Homo sapiens: one gene and its partners. The protein of the gene in region 3 purifies or fractionates together with the protein of the main gene of each other region. This does not show direct contact. Each region holds a gene or a part of one and is shown on either strand. Other genes may lie near its edges.

The links.
Region 1: the proteins of FAM107B (region 3) and PAGE5 purify together in Homo sapiens (affinity purification with mass spectrometry; one large-scale study listed by BioGRID and IntAct). This does not show direct contact.
Region 2: the proteins of FAM107B (region 3) and ESF1 purify together in Homo sapiens (affinity purification with mass spectrometry; one large-scale study listed by BioGRID and IntAct). This does not show direct contact.
Region 4: the proteins of FAM107B (region 3) and MAP9 purify together in Homo sapiens (affinity purification with mass spectrometry; one large-scale study listed by BioGRID and IntAct). This does not show direct contact.

What each region holds. Positions count from the first base shown.
Region 1 is NC_000023.11:55,219,072-55,223,272, reverse strand, and holds the start of PAGE5 (P antigen family member 5), read right to left. Parts: upstream 2,928-4,201; 5' UTR 2,821-2,927; exon of another isoform or gene 2,674-2,820; coding exon of another isoform or gene 2,622-2,673; intron 1,899-2,621; coding exon of another isoform or gene 1,891-1,898; coding exon 1,810-1,890; intron 1,507-1,809; coding exon 1,398-1,506; intron 653-1,397; coding exon 527-652; intron 1-526.
Region 2 is NC_000020.11:13,716,246-13,718,998, reverse strand, and holds part of ESF1 (ESF1 homolog), read left to right. Parts: intron 1-14; coding exon 15-91; intron 92-1,484; coding exon 1,485-1,631; intron 1,632-2,753. UniProt on the Homo sapiens protein: May constitute a novel regulatory system for basal transcription. Negatively regulates ABT1.
Region 3 is NC_000010.11:14,670,385-14,674,090, forward strand, and holds part of FAM107B (protein FAM107B), read right to left. Parts: intron 1-3,706.
Region 4 is NC_000004.12:155,374,039-155,378,404, forward strand, and holds the start of MAP9 (microtubule-associated protein 9), read right to left. Parts: upstream 2,928-4,366; 5' UTR 2,733-2,927; exon of another isoform or gene 2,338-2,732; intron 1,877-2,337; 5' UTR 1,813-1,876; coding exon 1,738-1,812; intron 984-1,737; coding exon 899-983; intron 1-898. UniProt on the Homo sapiens protein: Involved in organization of the bipolar mitotic spindle. Required for bipolar spindle assembly, mitosis progression and cytokinesis. May act by stabilizing interphase microtubules.

The DNA of each region.
Region 1 (4,201 bases), on a different chromosome or scaffold from region 3:
CCTGAAAATTATTGGCTGTTGGTTACATGACTTACATTTAAAAGTTAGAAAACCTTTTCTTATCTTTCTTTTAAAAATGACACATGAAATCATATATATTTATCATGTAAAACATGATGTTTTAAAATATACATACATTGTAAAACGGCTCAACCTAATTAATATATGCATTATTTCATATAGCTGTGAAGACACTCAAAATCTACTCTCTTAGCATGTTTCATATCTTTCATATCGTAACTCAATTAGCTTTGACCCAATTTATTCTATCTCTTGAAGTTCTGGCCTCAAGTGGTCTTTCTGCCTCGGCTTCCCAAAGTGCTGGAATTAACAGCATGAGCCACCACACCTGGCCTTCTATCTCTGATAGTGTGTAAGGCAGCCATTTGGGGTCTGAACTACCTTCAAAGAATCTTTAGATGTGAAGTATGATATTAAAGTAGCAGTAATTTTACCTCTGTGTCACACAAAATACAATATTGTGAAAATAGAAACCCTATAATTTGCATCTTATTGAATAACATACCTGCTTCCAGCACTTTAGTGGGATCAAAAGTGGGCAGAGTCCCCTCCCTGACATCAGGACCATCTCCAGGTGCATCCTCTATCTTAAGCAGAGCCAGTTCCTGTTGAAAAGCTTCCACATCAGTCCCTTAAAGATAAAAAGTCGTCAATTTACGAATTAAAATATGAACTATGAACGAGGTAATAATATTTATTCCCTCATCATTGTGAAATAAAAACCTGTAGGCTAATTATTTCAGAAGTCTGTTGCCAGAAAAGCAGGAAAGCAGAAATGTTCAAACATTGCCCTTTCCTTTCCCAAGGCTGGCCCTAGACAACTTACTTGTTCCTTTTGTACTCATTTGTTCTTATTCTTATCACATTAAATCAGTGATTTGTTTGAGTCAGTCTGACTAGACTATGAGCTTTAGGCAAAAATTTGGCACTGACATCTCCGGCGCTTAGTATATTACACAGCATGAGGAAGCATTAATAAATGTGTTAAAAAGTATCTTATAAAAATACATGAGAGATGTCCGCAGATGGCAGACTAGGAAGCTGCAAGCTGCCATTCTTCCACAGAAGCATAAAACAAAACAAAACAAAACAAAAAACAGAAAATAGCTGAACAAACCATACAGGAACTCTGGAAAACACTCAAAGGTTTACGGCAACCATGCAAATACCCAATCAATAAAAAGCCTCCGTCAAAATGGTAGGAAAGTTTGTGGCTTTTTATGTGTCCTTGTCCCACCCCTCCGCACAGCAGCAGTAAGAAATGTTTAAGATTCCTTCCTAATGTTTTCTGTCCTCCTGTTACTGGTATGTCACAAAATATAATGCATAAATAGACCTCCACCACCCATAAGCATTATTCTCCACTCTCCCTTCACCTTGAACAGCAGGTGCTCCTTCATTTTTGATCTCCCCACTAGGTGCAATACCCTGATTATCAGTTGGTGGTTCCTCTTCTTGACGTTTTTCCTCAGTGGGCTGCTGGACCTAAGGGTGTAAGTGTGTGTGCGAATAAAAAGTCAATAATATAAACACACAAATGCATATGTGCATCGAATCATAAATCTAAAGACATTTTCCAATAGATATATATATAGAGAGAGAGTAAAATATCCATATCCATAAGGCAACACCAGAATATAATATTCCTGAACCAAAGTTGCCTTCATGAGATGCCATCATCATTTTTTATTAGCATGGAACACCTGTATCAGTGCATGTACACTCGCTCAAAAATATTTTTTAAAATAAAATGTGTTAATAGAAAACATCAAATGCTAAAGGACTCACAATCACAGGTCCAACTGGCTGGGAAGACTCTTGGTCATTTCCTCTTTCTGAGGATTGGGATCTTGTTACATGCTCACTCATATCTCTCACTGAAAACAAAATATTGTTATTTGGAAAAAGTGTGTAAGAACTTAGCTATATATATGAACATTCCATGGCAAAATGGTGATTTGTACTTTTTTAATTTTGAAAATATTTTCAAACTAAGTCACAGAGCATTGATAAGTACGCATGCTTTCCAATCAAACTAAGGACAGATTTGTTTGTATCATAGTCGAAGAGGCACAGAAAACACCTTAACGCCATAGCAAAAGACAGAGGACTTTTCTGAGTTTTGGCTTCACAATTAGACTCTCCATCATTTACACATTTAGGAAAAAAACGGGCAGAAAATTGAAACTGAAGTGACTGCTGCTTTCCTCCCACTCTGATATACTAGGGCCACCACCACCTCCTCCCCACTCCCCGAAAAATCAAGTTTTGTTGGAATGCACAGCCTCAACCATTCCTTTCCATGAGGTCCATGGCTGAGATGAGAAGTTGCGACACAGAGTTAAGGTTATGTTCCTCACTGGACACCTCTGCCAGGCACTCTACAGACCTCGGGGCCGTAGTCACCAGCCCACAGCGTTCCCAGTTTCCTGGCCCCTTCCTTACCACCCACACCATCCCTTCTCGCATCCCTAACGAAGAGTCCAGAAACTGTCCTCCCTCAGAGAGTTCCAGGCGTTTTCGGGACTCAGACACCTCTAACAGCACCCACCCCCAGGACTCGCACCATCTTCAGGCGATCTACCCCCTCCACGGCCTACCTTCCTCCCTCGTTCCAGCCCAGCCACGATTACCGGCCCATGGCGCCTGCATCAGGACCTGGGGGAAGGCGGAGGACCACCGCGAGGCCCTTTTCCCTCAAAGCCACGGACTGTGCCACGGGACCTGTCCTAAGCCCGCTGGCTCCTCCACACATTCACTCACAACTAAATTACCAGGAAGACCACTCTGCAGACCTACCGGCTGAGTCTCGGTCAGTGAGAAAGAACGAAGATGTTGGAAAGAACGAAGATGGCGGAAAGAACGAAGACACAACCTCTCCTTGCAGAGCTCTGCCTAGACAGAAGGTGGGCAGAAAGGCGCATGCGCAGCAACAGATCTGTGCAGCATGCGCACTCAGTGGGGTATTTGCCACGTGACTGAAGGTTTCCTGCCTCTGTGGAGAACCTAAACCACAAGCTCTTCTGACAACGAAAATGAACTTACAAAGCACTTTTCTTTTTCCCCCGCCCAACCTTCCTTTCACTTCCAATGGCGTTGGAGAATATGAGGCCCAGGTTACTCTAAGAAAACAATGTGTTTCGGACAAATTCGCCATCATAGAAATAAATATTATATATGTTAATACCCATTTTATATCTGCTTTCATAAATCATTTTCTTGTGCCTTCGCGAGTCTGCTGTCATGCTTGCAATGATCTTACCCACTCCAATATGATAAGACATTCATAGTTTTTGTTGCATGATTGTACATTCAAAATCATTGATCCGGGCCAGGCGCAGTGGCTCACGCCTGTAATCCCAGCCCTTTGGGAGGCCCAAGCGGGCAGATCACGAGGTCAGTAGATCGAGATCATCCTGGCTAACATGGTGAAACCCCATCTCTACTAAAAATTCAAAAAATTAGCCGGGCATAGTGGCACGCGCCTGTAGTCTCAGCTACTCGGGAGGCTGAGGCTGGATAATTGCTTGAACCCGGGAGGTGGAAGTTGCAGTGAGCCGAGATCGTGCCACTGCACTCCAGCCTGGGCAACAAAGTGAGACCTCATCTCAAAAAAAAAAAAAAAACAAAACAAACAAACAAAAAAAAAATTGATCCATCTGAACAAAATTAAGTGGTAGGGACTCTACATCATTTGTTGAATCCCTGTTTCACCCACTGTTTTGAAGTGGCTCTTTTATCATCACCTACATCCCCACTCAATTTTGTATGTAACTCTCTTATTTTAATTTTCTTCCATTGAGTCGTTTGTACCTGTACCACTAGTATACTATTTTAATTGCTGTAGCTTAATTATATTTGTAATGCGAAATAATGCTTGCCCTCCCTCATTGCTTTTTCCTTTTCTGTCTACTCTGACACATTTGTCTTTCAGATGAACTTCAGAATCATTTGATCAGGTGCTAAAATATTCCAGGTGAGACACTAGGTATTATTTTTAAATTACATCTTAACTTAGGGACAATATCTATCTTTCTATTTTAGAATTTCTCTATCCAAGAAAAAGCCACTCCTCATTTCCTCAAGTCTTTTTATGTATCCCTCACAATGACTGTGTTATTTGCTTCATATTAGTTCTTCACATTCAAATTAAATTTATTATTGGGCATTTTTATTGTTC
Region 2 (2,753 bases), on a different chromosome or scaffold from region 3:
GTTTGTTGTGCCAGGTATAAATAAAAAATCGGTAAAATCTGCAAAAGATGGCACATCTCCAGAAGAAGAAATTGAAATAGAAAGACAAAAGGTAAAATACGATTATTGTTACATGCTTAGTGGATAATTCATAGGTACAATTTAAATGAAGTTGTACATGTCACTAATTTTAAAAAACAACTTATTTTAGCAGTGGCATTTATAACTAAATTGTAAGAGACATAATTAAATATTTTAGCAGTGTAGTTTCTAAATACAGTGTTTTTTTTACCAAACATAATTTCTCCAAATTGTACAAAGTTAAAATTAACCTCAAATTCAAGGGTATTTATTTTCTTTTATAAATTAAGAGGGAATTATCTCACTTTTAAAAACACTTACTATACCTGAGGCAGAAAATACCCTTAAAACCTCAAAATAATATTGCCATAAGTTTTAATTCAATCTGAATCTGTCCTGGAATACAGTTTGTGGTTATGGTTTGTCAAATGCAAATTTCTGTTTTTCTTATTGTGAATATGTATATTTAACGTACAAAATTACATTCTTGGAAATGCAGTGAACCTTATGCTTCAGTGACCCCCTATGTCCAGAGTCACACGTAATTTTGGCACAGAGTCATATGTGATTTTGCTGAGGCAGGAATTGAAGGCAGCAGTGCCCCTAGGGCTGATGTTCATGTCACTGTCCAGAAGTGTGCCTGACTGGCCACATAAAGTTATCTAAAGAGCAACAAAGAAAATCAATTTTTATGGAAAATGTCTCTGAAAAGCCAGCTAAAAGTGCCAGTGACAAAAGGAAATTAAGGCAGTCTAAAGTGGTAATATAGGAAGATCCACAAAGGTCGAGAGCATACTCTGTATTTTTACTAGTGTACATGGTTATTTACTTGATTCTTGAGGGTTCTCGTTTAATCCCATGGCTGGTAGAAAATACCCGTTTAGTGTAAAAAGACATTTACTAGATTTCAGAAGCAGATCCTAAGGTCCTACCTTCATAGAAATGTATCAGTATTGAAACAGTAAAGGCCAAAAAAAAAAAAGCAAAAAAAAAACTTACTTGTTAAAAGTTACACATTTAGAAAGTATAATTTGCATCACAAAATAAACATTTGCTAGATTTAGCATCATTGCGCAAAAAGAACAAAGTGAAAATGAGAACTTTTTATTTGAGGGTAGTTGGGGACTCTTGTTCCTGCAGCCTACTAATGAGTCACACTAAGTGAAATGGGGCCTGGTTTTTAACTACAAGGTTTTACCTCTCCTGCTCTCAGTAATGTTGCTTCCAGAGATTCTACCTTATTGCTATACAAAGATCTCTTTGTTTTGGTAATCCACAGTCAGTTTACAGACAACAGGTGGTACCCCAGAGTTCTAGTGATTGAGTCTTCCTTTCTAGAAGAGATATCTTCTGCCCTATACTCCTTTTTGGGGGTGGAAAAAAAAGCACTGTTGTACATTTGAACTTTTTTTTGCTCTCTACAGGCTGAAATGGCTTTGCTTATGATGGATGAGGACGAGGACAGTAAGAAACACTTCAATTACAACAAGATTGTGGAGCACCAGAATCTGAGCAAAAAGAAGAAAAAGCAGCTCATGAAAAAGAAGGAATTAATAGAGGATGACTTTGAGGTAACCATAGACACCAGGCATAGCCTCTTAAAGCTGGAATTGAATCTAAAGTCAGCTCTGCAGATAGAAATTGAGCATAGTCAAAGTTACCCTTGAAAATGTCTTAGGGGCCCGGTGCAGTGGCTCACGCCTATAATCCCAACACTTTTTTGGAGGCCGAGGCATGAGGATCACTTGAGTCCAGGAGTTGGAGACCAGCCTGGGCAACATAGTGGGACCCTCATCTCTATGAAAAATAAAAAAAATTAGCTGGCTGGGCGTGGTGGCTCATGCCTGTAATCTCAGCACTTTGGGAGGCTGATGTGGGCAGATCACGAGGTCAGGAGGTCAAGACCATCCTGGCTAACACGGTGAAACCCCATCTCTACTAAAAATACAAAAAATTAGCCAGGCGTGGTGGCGGGCACCTGTAGTCACAGCTACTCAGGAGGCTGAGGCAGGAGAATGGCGTGAACCCAGGAGGCGGAGCTTGCAGTGAGCCGAGATCTCGCCACTGCACTCCAGCCCAGGTGACAGAGCAAGACTCTGTCTAAAAAAAAAAAAAAAAAAAAAAAAAAAAAAAATCCAGGTATAGTGGCGCACACCTGTAGTCCCAGCTACTCAGGAGGCTGAGGTGGGAGGATCGCTTGAGTCCAGGAGGTCAAGCCTGCAGTGAGCCATGATTGTGGCACTGCACTCCAGCCTGGGCAACAGAACAAGACCCTGTCTCAAAAAAAAAAAAAAAAGAAAAAAAAAGAAAATGTCTTCAGAAAGACTGATGGTGGAGCCAAAGGCTACTGTCTTTTAATCCAGCACAGCCAGTTCATCCTAGGGTGGATGAAATCATTGTTTCTTTGGTTGAGCACCAGGTGAAATAGTTGACTTGTATTTTGGTAGCCATATTGTACCAAAAATGTGTAGTTTTTAATGTTAGAATCACATGTAGTGATCCTCAGACCAGCAAAGGTATGCTTGAATAGCAGGTTCATGTCACAGTGGGTCACACTCACTGTGTGCAGTGGCCAGCGCAGTAAGCCATGTTTTTTCAGTTGCTGTGTTTTTTGTTTCCATTACTCCTTCCTCTTTTTGTTGAGTACATATTCCTAATGGCTGCAGAGTCCCCTAAGCATGAGTTTGAGCCGT
Region 3 (3,706 bases):
ATTAATAGTATACCAAAGAATGTGTAAATAACAGAAAAGCCCCATCACACAGCAAATAAATGCAGTAAGTCATTTCTTGTTTCACAAGGCCTGACAGAACAGTATATAATGAAAACATGAGGAATTATTTTATAATACAGCCACAGGGGAAGTCTCTTGAGAGGCCAAAATAATCCAAATAAAGTCATTTTCAAGATGAAAAGACTCTCCCCTTTGAGCCAGTAAGACTGTTTACTTTTTTATTGCTCTGAATTCCAGAACTGTGAAATAACATAGCCCTTTAGCTCTTCTCCAAACATATTTATTACTCCATCTTAAATAGCCCCTCCCTAAGGTTTCCCTTTGACTAGTAAGAGTTGCAAAGTCCCGCAACAATCTGCAGAGGGAAGGATGTTGGAAATGCTCTTGGTTGGAGAGCTTTCAGCACAGAATAAACAAGCATCTGTCCTCACTAGTATAAACTATGTTCTATTTAGAGAAAAGAAGCTGAGCTCCTTCAATTCTTGTGTCTCTTCTCTTCAGCGCAAGTCTGCAATTTGCTGAATGCGTTCGTAGTGGCTTTTTCCCAGCAAAGCTAGAATAAAATGACAACAGTCCAACTGTAGTAGACATCTGTTGATTTTGCTGCCTAGTACTCACTGACTCACTATCTAGTAAGTGTGTCCTGATTTCCTCTTTAAAGCCATCTCATCCCATCTCATCCCACTCTTAAAGAACTGTGGTTTTCTGTGCTCCGTGAAACCGACTCCTTCCCCACCATCCCACTCCAGGGGTGCAACATATGACCCAGGCCCACGCCCATCAGTCTGCTGCATTTCCCTCTGATTGGTAGAGCGGCTATGTTGTTCCAGGACTGTTCCTTAGTTCAGCTAAAGACAGAGTTCTTTGTCCCATGGCCACGAAAATTAAGGCTTGCAGACAATTTGAAAAGGCTCGCCAACAATTTGAATGGTGAGTAAAACAGGGTTTTATTGGGTGAAAAGGAAGAAAAGGGGGAAACAGGGACTCTTACTAGGTCAGAGTCCCTGCTACAACCCTTCCTGTTGGAATCCCAGGTTACACACAGGAAGAGGAGGGGCCAGGCTCCTCCCTGATGCAAATGGCACGAGCTTCCCGAGGCTCCACCCCAAGTGGGCAGGCTGGTTGGAGGTTTTCTGGGGACCCCCTCCCATCTCGCTGTCTGAATGTGACACACTCAGGGTTAGTGAGACCTAATGAGATTTTTCTCTGGACTTCTGGGAAAATGACTCCTGTTCTTATTATCCACTGGCCCTGAAACCAGAGACAGGGGTTGCAGCTGCTACTGTAGGCACCACCTTGTTATCACGTGCGGCTGAAACTGAAGCCCACACAAAGGAAGGCAGAGCCAAGAGATGCTCCAATGCTTTCTTCTGTTGATATCAACTAAGCCCCAAATTCAGCCACGCCTGAAGCAAGATTAACCCTGGACTTTTCCGCATAAGGCAGCTAATACACTCCCTTTTATTTAAAAAAAAAAAACAAAAAAACAAAAAAAAAACCCTCTATTTCTTTTTAAATCAAACTGATTCCTATCAGGTTTTCTGTCACTTCTAAAAGAATGAGTCCTAACTGATACACCAGTGTAAGAACTCCAGCTCTGGGAAATCAGGAGTCAGGCATGCATTGGTTCTGTACATTGGTTCTGTACCTCCCCTGCCATCATGAGTTTTTTTCTTTCTTTTTATTTTTTATTTATTTATTTTTTTTTTTGAGGCAAAGTCTTGCTCTGTTGCCCAGCAGTGGCGTGATCTCGGCTCACTGCAGCCTCCACCTTCCAGGTTCAAGCGATTCTCCTGCCTCAGCCTCCCGAGCAGCTGGGATTACAGGCACCTGCCACCATGCCCAGCTAATTTTTGTATTTTAGTGGAGACGGGATTTCACCATGTTGGTCAAGCTGGTCTCAAACTCCTAACCTCAGTTGATCTGCCCGCCTCGGCCTCCCAAACTGCTGGGATTACAGGCGTGAGCCACTGTGCCCGGCCCCATCATGAGTTTTACAATGCTTATTAAATCAAATGTGACCACGATGATGTACCAAGAATGTACTATTAAAATTTGTCAAACAAATGGACTTTTCATTTACAGTCGTGTGTTGTCACTTTACAACATGAATATGTGTTTGTTTGTGTTTCTAAACATAGAAAAGGTACAGTAAAAAGATAGTTTATAACCTGATGGGACCTCCATTCTATATGGGGTCTGTTGCTGACTGAAACATTATTATATGGCTCATGACTGTATTTTCCTTGAGGACTAATCCCAAGATGCCTCATTGAAAGGGCATGTGAAACCACACTAAGTTTATACTTAGGGAGTTCAAGGTAAGATTTTGGTACAAATTAGCTTCTTTTCCTAAGGTTCACCTGATTGAACATTAGTAGAAATAAAGAAAGAAGGAAGGAATAAAAAAACTTAAAAACACGAACCAAATACATTCACCAATGTACATCAAGTCATTTTCCTTTGGCCTCATAGTTGGCAACATTGGGAGTTAACATTTCACTCTAGGGCAGCAAGTTTAGAAGCAAAAAGGTAGTTTGTTGGAGACAGAAATAGAATTCCTGACCAATAATTAAAGAGGCTTGGTTCCATTCTTTTAAATGGACACATAATAATCATAGATATTTATGTGTACATGTGATATTTCAATACATGTATACATGTGAAATGAGCAAAGCAGGGTAATTAGCCTGTCCGTCACCTCAAACATCCATCATTTCTTTGTGTTAGGAACATTCAATATCTGTTCTTCTAGCTATTTGAAAATATACAATAAATTATTGTTAACTAGAGTCACCCTGCAGTGCTATAGAACACTAGAAACTATTCCTTCTATCTGGCTGTAATTTTGTACTCATTAACCAACCTCTCCCTATTTTTCCTTCCCCCTAACCTTCCCAGCCTCTGGTAACCACTGTTCTCCTCTCCACTTCCATGATACCAACTTTTTCAGCTCTCACATATGAGTCAGAACATGTGGTATCTGTCTTTCTGTGTCTGGCTTATTTCACTTAATATAATGTCCTCCAGGCTCATCTATGTTGCTGCGAATGAAGGATTTTATTCTTTTTTTAAATGTCTGAATAGTATTCTATTGTATAAGTGCCACATTTTCTTTATCCCTTCATCTGTTGATAGACACTCAGGTTGATTCCGTATCTTTGCTATTGTGAATAGTGCTGCAATAAACACGAGAGTGTAGATATCTCTTTGACATGCTGATCTCCTTCCCTTTGGATGCATACCCAGCAGTGGGATTGCTGGATCATATGGTCGTTCTATTTTTAGTTTTTGGAGAAAACTTCATACTGTTTTTCATAACGGCTGTACTGTAGGAGTTCCCCTTTCTCCGTATCCTTTTCGGCGTTTGTTATTTTTTTGTCTTCTTGATAATCGCCATTTGAACTGGGGTGAGATGATATCTCATTTTGGTTTTGATTTGCATTTTCCTGATGATTAGTGATGTGGAGCATTTTTTTAATATACTTGGCTATTTGTATGTCTTCTTTTGAGAAATGCCTATTCCAATCTTTTGCCTATTTTTTAATCAGATTATTTGTTTTTTGCTTTTGCTTTTTGTTTTGTTTGTTTGCTGTTGAGTTATTTGCGTTCCAAGTATCTCTAGAAAAGAGGGCATCCACATGCAGAAGAATGAAGGTAGACCCCTATCTCTCACCAGATCCAA
Region 4 (4,366 bases), on a different chromosome or scaffold from region 3:
TTTTAAAGAATAAAACACCAGGCCGGGTGCGGTGGCTCACACCTATAATCCCAGCACTTTGGGAGGCTGAGGCGGGCGGATCACAAGGTCAGGAGTTCGAGACCAGCCTGGCCGATGTGGTGAAACCCCATCTCTACTAAAAATACAAAAATTAGCCGGGCATGGTGGCGGGCACCTGTAGTCCCAGCTACTCAGGAGGCTGAAGGAGGAGAATCACTTGAACCTGGGAGGTGGAGGTTGCAGTGAGCCGAGATTGCACCACTGCACTCCAGCTTGAGCAACTGAGCGAGACTCCATCTCAAAAACAAAAACAAACAAACAAAAACACCAAGTTTAGAATTCTGTATGCTTATACCTGAAACTAAAATGTTAATATGTTTACATAGCTAAGAGAAACCAAATTATAATAGTACTGATATATGAAACACGAAGAGTCTGTGGTTTTTAAATTTACCCCTTATCACAGCCAAAAAAAATCTGATTTATAGCAAGCTTTATAAAAGCACTTCTAATGTGCACCGAAGTTTAGTTCTGTGGGACTAGTTACTAACTAGCTGTAGCACCTCCTAGGGTTGATCTTAAAGATGAACCTGTCTTCTTCAATGTGGTTTACCACTGGCAGCCATCCTTTTACTGCAAACCTGCCATCAATTAATTTATATTTTCGTATACACATTCAGAAAACAAAACAACAATAAAAAAAGAAAATCATACAACTTCCTGAAAATTAAGAGTGGCTTTCTACTAATTAAAAAGTTGAAAATCTAAAATTAGTGAATGCTTAGGTATTATTTTAACATACGTGATTGAGGGGATGGGTGGTTGGGGGGCTGGCTAAATACAAAACTAAGGAAGCAAAAAGAAGAAAAGTGGTTCACGTTTCCATACTGTCACATACCAATCTCATCACTGTCAAAGTCATCTGAGTATTCAGAACTCCTTTGTCTGGCTGAGCGAGCTGTAATTGCTCTTATTAGCTCATCCTGAAATGAGATACTGAAATCAATTTCCATCCAAACATGGAGGTATCATATTCACAAGTAATTCTTTAAACAAACAATGCTTGATTAACGACTGCTTTCAAACTTAGGTTTCATTCATCTAACAAATATTTCCTGCAAGCTCACTTTATGCCATGTACCCACTTTACGCCTCATACTCAATGCAGAGCATCACAGACAAGAGCCCTTCCTCATGGAGCTCGCAGTTTAACTAGAGGAGACACACATTATGGAACAAATTAATTGCAGGTTATAATTAGAGCTGGAGGGTAACAAATAAGAAGGGGCTCAATTTAGATTATAATTTATTAAAAACTGGTATTTTGAAAGAAATTGGTATTTTTAAGAGCTTTTGTCTCGGCATATTTCAGAAATGGATGCAATCAATATTGCAAACTTAGAGGCTGAGTTCAAAATTGCAGTGACTCAACAGAAAAAAAAACTTAAACATTATGTTACAACAGAAAAAAAAGTTTTTATATAAAAATGGCAATTTAAGGTTGCGATTCAACTTTTAACTTAGTAGGAAACTAGTATTGAGGCTACTTTGGTAGTCTTAAAACCATATAGGGGAGTTTGTAATACTGGATGGAGCCCAAACATGATCATGTGCAAAACCTCAAAAGTAATATAAGATTTACCCCTGCTTTATATAGGACTGTTCTAGAATCACCAATTTCAACCCATCTAATACAGTGTTTACACTGTGAAATGATTCCAAATAAAAATACTTTACCTGGAAAGTAGTTCTTTTGGTAACTTTTGGACTCTTTGTATATGCCAAAGTGGTGCTAAAAACTTCATCAGACATAGTGTATTTTTTCTCGTTACCTTTATAAAATAGCTAATTATTAGAATTCAACTTCTGATAGTAGCTGAAATATACAAAACAAATCAGACTTCGCATGCTTCAGAATTTATTTTATTACATTTGATTCTACTCTCCCCACAAAGGTCAAAGAAAAGCATCTGATATGAACATTGGGCTACATCTTCACTTAAAAAGGTTCTTGTAAAGAAATAGCAAATTCTCATAACAAGCTTGTTTAAAAAAATTCAAATGGAAGTTATCCTAAAATAGTTTTGCAACTACTTAAAAAGTCTGCAAATAAATGATTACAAGTTAATACGACAAAATGCTGCCAATTAAAATAGAACACCTTATTTTTCACCTCTCTTCTAAAGTATAACATTGCCTTCAAAATAAGTCACGTCTTATTTAAAAGGCCATCAAAAGGATCGTCGGCGTAAAAATTATGAGCACCACCACCAAAAAAAAAATGTATCTATATATTTGCATACAGCGCTATTCAAAGAAAAAGATCGTAATGCTAACCCGCAAACAGCCAGCGAGATGTATTGCAAGCCAATTTTTCCTCTCACAAAAGTGTTAAAGAGAGCCAGACAAAACGACGAAGCTTTCGCGATGAGCCGCATTAAAATCGCGGTTTCCCGTACTCGGAGCAGAGGCCTGGCAGGGCCGCCCATAGCGTTGTGCGCCCCGGGTTCCGTTCCCTACCAGGCCAGGTGACGTCCGGGTGCTCGCCGCTCCTCACCGCGCCGTATGCTGAGCACCAGCGAACGCCAGGCCCGTGCACGTCCAAGCGCGGTCTCTGTCCGGATCCCCCATGGCCCCCAGGTCCCGCTTTCTGTTCCCGGCCCCGGACGCCCGCGGCCAGTTCTCCGCGACCCTGAGAATCAAGAGCCAAGCATCGGGTAGGAGCTGCTCACCTTGGTCTGGGCCTGGCGGCGCCCGCAGAGCCGGTCCTGGACCGAGCGAGGAGGAGGGGCTAATAACAGAGGCGGAGGGCGGTTGCTAGGAAACAGCGTCTTCGGGAGGAAGTGACTTCCCCACCGCCGGGTCTCTCGGGTACCCAACACCGCTCTTCGGCCCAACGTGTCGCTGGGGCAACCACCCAGACGAAGGAAGTGACATCACCTTCCTGGGTCTTTGGAGAGGGGCTCATTATTGGTCGCTTGTGTGCATGTGCTGTTGCCTAGGAGACAGGACCCGCCCAACTCCCACCCAGATAGCCTTACTCTTGCCAATAGAGTAAGGGTCCTTATCTGCACGTGTTGCAAATAAAGCACATTCGTCGTTTTGCCACAGTTAGGACGTGAAGTTCTCTGAATCGAAGTACGGTGTCAGTGGATGGGACAGAATAGTACGGTAGTGAGTTTGCAGAACCCTGTTTCCGACTGCAGGTTTGAATCCTGGTACCCCTTTCCTACACACGTGATTGTCCCAAGTTAAGGTCTTTATGACTCAGTTTCTTCTTCTGGGGGAAAACAAAAGTGTACTAATAATAGACACCTGAAAGGTTGCTGTAAAATTGAATGAAATAATACAAGTGGAACACTTGGAAGAGTGCCTGGAATTGTATTCGATATTAGATATGCTCTTCATGCAACTAAGCCGCAAAGGGCCTGGAGAGACCTCAGCTCTTGTGGACACAACTGAAAGCCCATTTGACATCTTACTTGAATGTAAAACTCCCCCTCTTTGTATACTTAGTGAGTAATCTTATTCCAATCAAACCAAACAAAATGATCCACTAGGCTAAAAGAGCATGTGCTACTAAAGTAAACAAAATCAACATCATTTAATTCGCATAGGAAATTCTTAAAGCAAATAAAAACCAAAAACGTTTATTGAAAGTCTTTAAAATAATATGAATTTTTACTATTTTTAATTTTTAAAAAGCTTAATCCTAGTTGAATTATCTGAATGAATTCATTGACTAGTAATTAAACTCATACCTGGTATTTTTTCCACATCTCTAAAATATGTTAATATTTCACTAATTCAATTTTGTATAAACAAATCACATTGAGATAGAAATTTAATAAATCAATGTATTGAAAAACTAAATGTGCATAACAAGAAATAAGAAATTTAGTAAAATACAATGCTGTATTAATCAGGGTTCTCTAGATGGACAGAACTAATAGTATATATATATTATATTATATATATTATATAATATATTATATATATAATATATATTATATAATATATTATATATATATGTCCACTCATCTGTATCCATTTATGAAGCTGAAAATGTACACCACCTCTACACACACATACCCAGAATAGAAAATGCTCCCTATTTTCTATTAACTCATGGCACTACTGTTGAACCCTTCCAGGTTCACCTCATGCTCCTGGAACCTCCTTTCCACTGTAAAACATTCTCTCACTTTTTCCTCTATAATCGCATTCTTATCTTAGCTAAGCAAAACTATTTTCTGAATAAACTATCTCCCTGAGGGCTTTTCAAATAGGGACTGCTGTAGAAGGAAGATTTCTAAGTTCTCCTAGGTCCTCACATACTCAGTGACTGCTCTCCTATTACTCCAAA